2 linked regions of the Homo sapiens genome follow. The protein of the gene in region 1 interacts with the protein of each later gene in a pairwise test. Each region holds a gene or a part of one and is shown on either strand. Other genes may lie near its edges.

Region 1 (2,550 bases):
CTCTTGCAGAACTGAGACCTGGGAGCTCCTCCCTCACCAGGAAGGGACCCGAGGCAGGCGGCGGGGGTCTCTGAGCCTGTAGGTGACATGCCTGGAGCTCACAACCCACATGTGGGCCTGGGGCTGCAGACCCCCACCTGCCAGGGCAGGAACCCCTGCGGGCCACTTTGAGGGACAGACTTGGGTCACGTCTGGTTTGTGCAATCCTGGCCAAGTCACTTCACCTTTGAGGACAGGTGAAGGAAGGCAGGTCCCCCAGGAAAGGCAGGATGGCAGGAGGGGGCACGGGGAGTGAGAGTGCAGGTCAGGATGGCAGGAGGGGGCACAGGGAGTGAGGGTGCAGATCAGGATGGCAGGAGCAACCACAGGGAGTGAGGGTGCAGGTCAGGATGGCAGGAGGGGTACAGGGAGTGAGGATGCCAGACCAGGCCAGGGACTGCACTGAACGCTAGTGTCTGTCCCAGGGTCAGCAGCTGTGGGCCTGGCCCACTATGGCCCACAGTCCCCATGCTCAGGAGGTGGGCACAGCTGCCGTGGGAACCAGGACCTTGCGTTGCTCATCCTGGCACCGGCCTCACCTGCTGAGCTCTGGTCTCTGGTCTTGTCCTTGACGACCACAAATCACTTTCACAGTATGGGGAGTGAACTCCAGCAGGGACCCTGAGCCTGGTTCTGAACTCTGCTGTAGGAGAGCGGGGTCCCTCGCACTGTGTCCTACCCCCCAGTATTAGCACTCTGTCCTGGCTGCCCGGTACCCTGGCCCTGCCTTCTTCTCTGTCAGCAGGGGTGGTGGCAATGGCCCTTAGGTTTCATTTGGAACCACAGGGCCTGGCCTGGAATCCAGCAGGGGCTGGGCCAGGTTCTCACTGACCCCTGGCCATGGTGATGGATGGTGAGCCGGGGCCCTGGGAACCTCCGTCTCTCTAAGTGCTGTGTTGTGGGGTGACCTCGGACCTGTGGGCACACGGCTCAGTGAGATGGGGCTGGACTGACGCTCAGGTGTGCTGCTTCTTCCCTAGAGTGTGTGGCAGGCCCCAACATCGCCGCCATCGTCGGGGGCACCGTGGCAGGCATCGTGCTGATCGGCATTCTCCTGCTGGTCATCTGGAAGGCTCTGATCCACCTGAGCGACCTCCGGGAGTACAGGCGCTTTGAGAAGGAGAAGCTCAAGTCCCAGTGGAACAATGTAAGTGGCCGTCCTTGGGGGTCCCACGCAGAGGGGCACGTGCGTCCCACACTATGCGACCTCCTGCTGCGGGAGGCCGTGGACACCCGTGTGTGGCTGCACCCCGGCCTCCCCAGGCAGCTTGTCCTCTGGGCGTCCGCCGCTGTGGGTGAGCTTGGCTGCCGGTGCTGGGACCCTGGGGGGGCTGCCCCACGTCTAGCTCTTCCTCAAAGTGACGGCTTCCATGCGGGGAGTGTCCTCAGGGAGAAAGATTCTGCTCTGAAAACCTCCCACACTCACAAGCCCCTGTTTGCATTTCCCACCAGGATAATCCCCTTTTCAAGAGCGCCACCACGACGGTCATGAACCCCAAGTTTGCTGAGAGTTAGGAGCACTTGGTGAAGACAAGGCCGTCAGGACCCACCATGTCTGCCCCATCACGCGGCCGAGACATGGCTTGCCACAGCTCTTGAGGATGTCACCAATTAACCAGAAATCCAGTTATTTTCCGCCCTCAAAATGACAGCCATGGCCGGCCGGGTGCTTCTGGGGGCTCGTCGGGGGGACAGCTCCACTCTGACTGGCACAGTCTTTGCATGGAGACTTGAGGAGGGAGGGCTTGAGGTTGGTGAGGTTAGGTGCGTGTTTCCTGTGCAAGTCAGGACATCAGTCTGATTAAAGGTGGTGCCAATTTATTTACATTTAAACTTGTCAGGGTATAAAATGACATCCCATTAATTATATTGTTAATCAATCACGTGTATAGAAAAAAAATAAAACTTCAATACAGGCTGTCCATGGAAACTGGGCACTGTGTCCGCTGTATTCCCCCGACTGGCAAGGTGGCCAGGCACACGTGGGCCCTGTCCTGCCCGCTGACCTTTGCCACACAGGCACACAGCTGGCTTCAGACCATGGGGCAGGTTCTGTTTTCCCTTTTCCTTCCTCACCTGCTGGTCTATACAGAGCCCCGCTCTGAGGCCCTGTCCCAAATCCTAGGTGCATTTCCGTAAACGGTGGTGGCCCCACCAAAGAGGTGCCTGCGGCGGAGCCTGGCCAGGGCAGAGGCAAAGCAGGAAAGCGGGTACCTGTCTGCCCTCCCTCCAGCCATCTACACCTCCCCTCCAGCCATCTACACCTCCTCTCCAGCTCTACACCTCCCCTCCAGCCATCTACACCTCCCCTCCAGCCATCTACACCTCCCCTCCAGCAGTCTACACCTCCCCTCCAGCCGTCTACACCTCTTCTCCAGCCGTCTACACCTCCCCTCCAGCAGTCTACACCTCCCCTCCAGCCATCTACACCTCTTCTCCAGCCATCTACACCTCCCCTCCAGCAGTCTACACCTCCCCTCCAGCTGTCTACACCTCTTCTCCAGCCGTCTG
Region 2 (3,826 bases), on another chromosome or scaffold:
AGTTTTGCTCTGTTGCCCAGTGCAGTGGCCCAATCATGGCTCACCACAACCTCCACCTCCCAGGTTCAAGCGATTCTCCTGACTCAGCCTCCCAAGTAGCTGGGATTACAGGCACCCGCCACCATGCTCGGCTAATTTTTGTATTTTTAGTAGAGACGGGGTTTTGCCATGTTGGCCAGGCTGGTCTCGAACTCCTCACCTCAGGTGATCTGCCCACCTCAGCCTCCCAAAGTGCTGGGATTACAGGCGTGAACCACCATGCCCGGCCCCTTTTCTTTATACAAACAATGGCAAGACAACAGCTTCTCCCCCTAGATCCTTCAGAAGCAACATAGCCCTGATTTTAGCCTGGTGAGACTCATTTTAGACCTCTGCCCTCCAGAACTGTAAGATACATTTCTGTTATTTTAAGCCACGAAGTTCGTGGTAATTTGTTTCAGCAGCAATAGGAAATGCAGACCTGAAAAACCCATCTCTCAGGTCTGTTGAGAAGATGAATATCAAATGCCTAACATAGTGCCCAGAGCATTGTAAGTGCCCAATAAATGGCAGTTTTCATCACTATTTCCTTATCTTGGAAGACAGGAGTAGCTAAATTATCATGTGCCATTGATACCAAAGGCCTAAGGGAGAAGAAGAGAATGCATAGTGAAAAAGGAGAACATTTTAGTGGCCAGAAAATTCAGAATATCTTGCCCACTGACATATCACCACCTTCCAATAACCAACCCACAGCTGGGCTGCCTCCCTGGCATTTCTGTCATGTCCTTGCCTAGGTTTCTTCAATTTATGCTTTTCTTTTTGCTCAGAGCAAGTTTCTACCTTCCTTCTTTTCTCCCACTTTTATCTGCGTTTTCCACCCTAATTGTGACTCCTGCAATTCTCCCATAGAATATTCATTTGCTCTTTCCCCTTTGTCTAAACTCTGTGTGGCAGAGTCATCTCTGGAAAAGTCTGTACGTCACGGGGCATAATTGGGTCACCCAGGCCACCTCCCTTGATCGGGGCCCCTGCAGTTCCTTTCTGGACCAATAAAGCCCCTCAGCGGTGCCTCTGTCTTTCTCCACAGCCCTCCTTGTCCCCTTGATGTGCACGGTCATTTTTCCTTTGAACCCACGCTGTAATTGCACTTTAAACTCCTTGAGGCCAGGCGCAGTGGCTCACGCCTGTAATCCCAGCACTTTAGGAGGCCAAGGCAGGAAGATCACAAGGTCAGGAGTTCGAGACCAGCCTGGCCAATATGGTGGAACCCCATCTCTACTAAAAATACAAAAAAAAAAAAAAAAGCCAGGTGTGGCGGTGGGCACCTGTAGTCCCAGCTACTAGGGAGGCTGAGGCAGGACAATAGCTTGAACCTGAGAGGCGGAGGTTGCAGTGAGCCAAGATCGTGCCACTGCACTGCAGCCTGGGCAACAGAGCAAGACTCTGTCTCAAAAAATAATAATAATAATAAAAATAAACTTCTTGAAAGAAGAAATTGTCTTATTTCACACAGTACATAATCAGTACGAGTTGATATCGGTGCTGAATTTGGCCTCTACTGATTTCTGCCCTTTCCTCTCTATGCTTCTGTTATCTGAACTCCTACGTTTCACAGTCTATTTACTTTTGTCTCTAGTTTAGATACTAACCCAACTGGTCAGGAATAATGTCTGTACATACCAGTAATGAACTTTACAATGTGACTCAACCAGCTACATGAGTAAGTTTCCCCCTTGGGGGAGTTTGTGCAGTCTAACACGCAACAATAACTGGAAAGAATGAATGAAATTTCTAAGCAGAAAGAAATGAATGGCATTTCTAAGCAGAAACTACACAGAGACGCAATGGCCCAGATTCTTCCATTTCTCCAGCAAACATGAATTGAGTACCCACTGTGTGCCAAATTCTGAGCTAAAAGTGCTCATAAATTTTAACTGAACTTGTCACAGCTACCCAGGTAAACAGATAAAGGAAAACATTTAGAGATGTCTAAACTTACTTGGAAGGTTGTTAATACTTACAGTGTAACAATGAGGTTAAAATTTAGCAAGGCTTGAGACAAATAGAAGGTTTGCCTCCCACTGCTACCCTACAAAACTAGGACTTTGACCAAATTGACTGGTTTGCTATCTTGTGGGCACCTTGCTCTTCTGTCTCTACTCCCTAACTTTTCCTTTCTCTTTACCTGGAATGTCACCCACCCCCACCTCACTCCCACACATATCCACCTCTACTCTACATATCAAACCATACACATCCTGCAAGACTTACGTCTTCCCGCCTCAGGACTCTCACAATATTTCATCTCACTACATGTAGTATAATTGTGTGGGAATGCATCTTAGTTTCCCTACTAACGCAAAAAATCCTAGAATACAATAATCTCCCTTACATATCTTTGTATGCCTCAGAATGCATATTGAACCATTTAATACATTTTTTATTTACAGCAGGAATGCATGAATTGATTAATTAAATGTTGAGAGCTGTAGATGGCTTTTCTCAAGGTGCTTCAAGTGCAGAAGCCCAAGTGATTGACCCACACACTTACCTTTGTGTTCCTTCCAGAAAATCCTCAGGGAGGTGAGAGACCCATGTTCAGCTGTGTATGGCACCAAAGTCTATACATAGTTTCTGGGAGTCACTGTGGGCTGTGGGGAAGCACGTGGACTCTGGAGTCACACACACCAAGGTCTCTAGCCTAGCTCTGCCACTTACTGGTTGTGTGACCCCAGGGAACTTAATTTACAAATTTAAGCTTTAGTTTCCTCATCTGCAAAATGGAGCCTCCTCGCCTTTCTTCTTTTGCTACCGAACTGGGTTATGAGAATTAGATGCGTGCATGCAAAGCACCTGGTAGAGTGGCACACACCTGGCAGAAGGAAGTAAATTCTAGTCCCCGTTTTCACTTACCCTCATATACAACGGGGCACTTTTTTATTTGCCAACTATTTCTTTGAAGATAATAAAAGAGTCAGAAAATGATAGTTTTTAAAAGCACCCTGCAGTCCACATGGGAACCAACCACTACCTCTGGCCATGAGTTTACCCTTTGGGTTTCCATTTGTCATGGCCAAGGGCAGTGAGGGCTATGCCAGGGACCCTCAGTGTGTTTGGCCCTACCCAATCACCATCTCAGGTCTACCCCTTGTGCATTCCACCTTGCGGGGCTCAGTCCACCACTCAGAAGGATGCATTCTGCACACTCCTTGCCTGAAAGAACTCCTGAAAGGCACTGACCAGGCTCTGGAAGGCTATATTCTTTTCATTCTTTATAAAAGTTATGTGATTACCAAGCTCAATAATCAAATGTCCTTCATCGCTAAAAGATTATATGGCTTTGGTTTGGATGCTTTGGGAACAAGGAGGCAATACGCAATGGCTTGGTTTACTCATGTTACAGAAACTGTAGCAGTTATTTGGTAATGCTTTCAACAGTGCCTTCAGCTTGTGGGAAATCCCGAAGATGGCCAAAGACAACTCAACTGTTCGTTGCTTCCAGGGCCTGCTGATTTTTGGAAATGTGATTATTGGTGTAAGTAATGATTATTTTCCAGGAAATTCTGCACTTCCTGTAATCATAATTCTAGATGAATCAAAAGTAAGAGTTTAAAGGAAAATAATGCTGTGATTACTGGCTTCCTATATTTTTGCTTCATTTTAAGAAATGTGTTAGTAAATATGCTAGCTAGAATTTAACTGTATGTCAAAAGATCATGGTTGAAAAAGTAGATATTTTCCTCCCAACTTTAAAATATAAGTATCTAAAAGGAGTCATGTCAACCATAGTCAGTGTCTAAACACTCTGACTACGAACACACTTCACTATTTCTTTTCTATGTCA

Evidence for each region.
Region 2: the proteins of ITGB2 (region 1) and UPK1B interact in binary tests that used the Homo sapiens proteins (3 or more experiments, as listed by UniProt).

What each region holds. Positions count from the first base shown.
Region 1 is NC_000021.9:44,885,372-44,887,921, reverse strand, and holds the end of ITGB2 (integrin beta-2 isoform 1 precursor), read left to right. Parts: intron 1-1,019; coding exon 1,020-1,186; intron 1,187-1,491; coding exon 1,492-1,554; 3' UTR 1,555-1,969; downstream 1,970-2,550.
Region 2 is NC_000003.12:119,183,294-119,187,119, forward strand, and holds part of UPK1B (uroplakin-1b), read left to right. Parts: intron 1-3,420; 5' UTR 3,421-3,448; coding exon 3,449-3,517; intron 3,518-3,826. UniProt on the Homo sapiens protein: Component of the asymmetric unit membrane (AUM); a highly specialized biomembrane elaborated by terminally differentiated urothelial cells.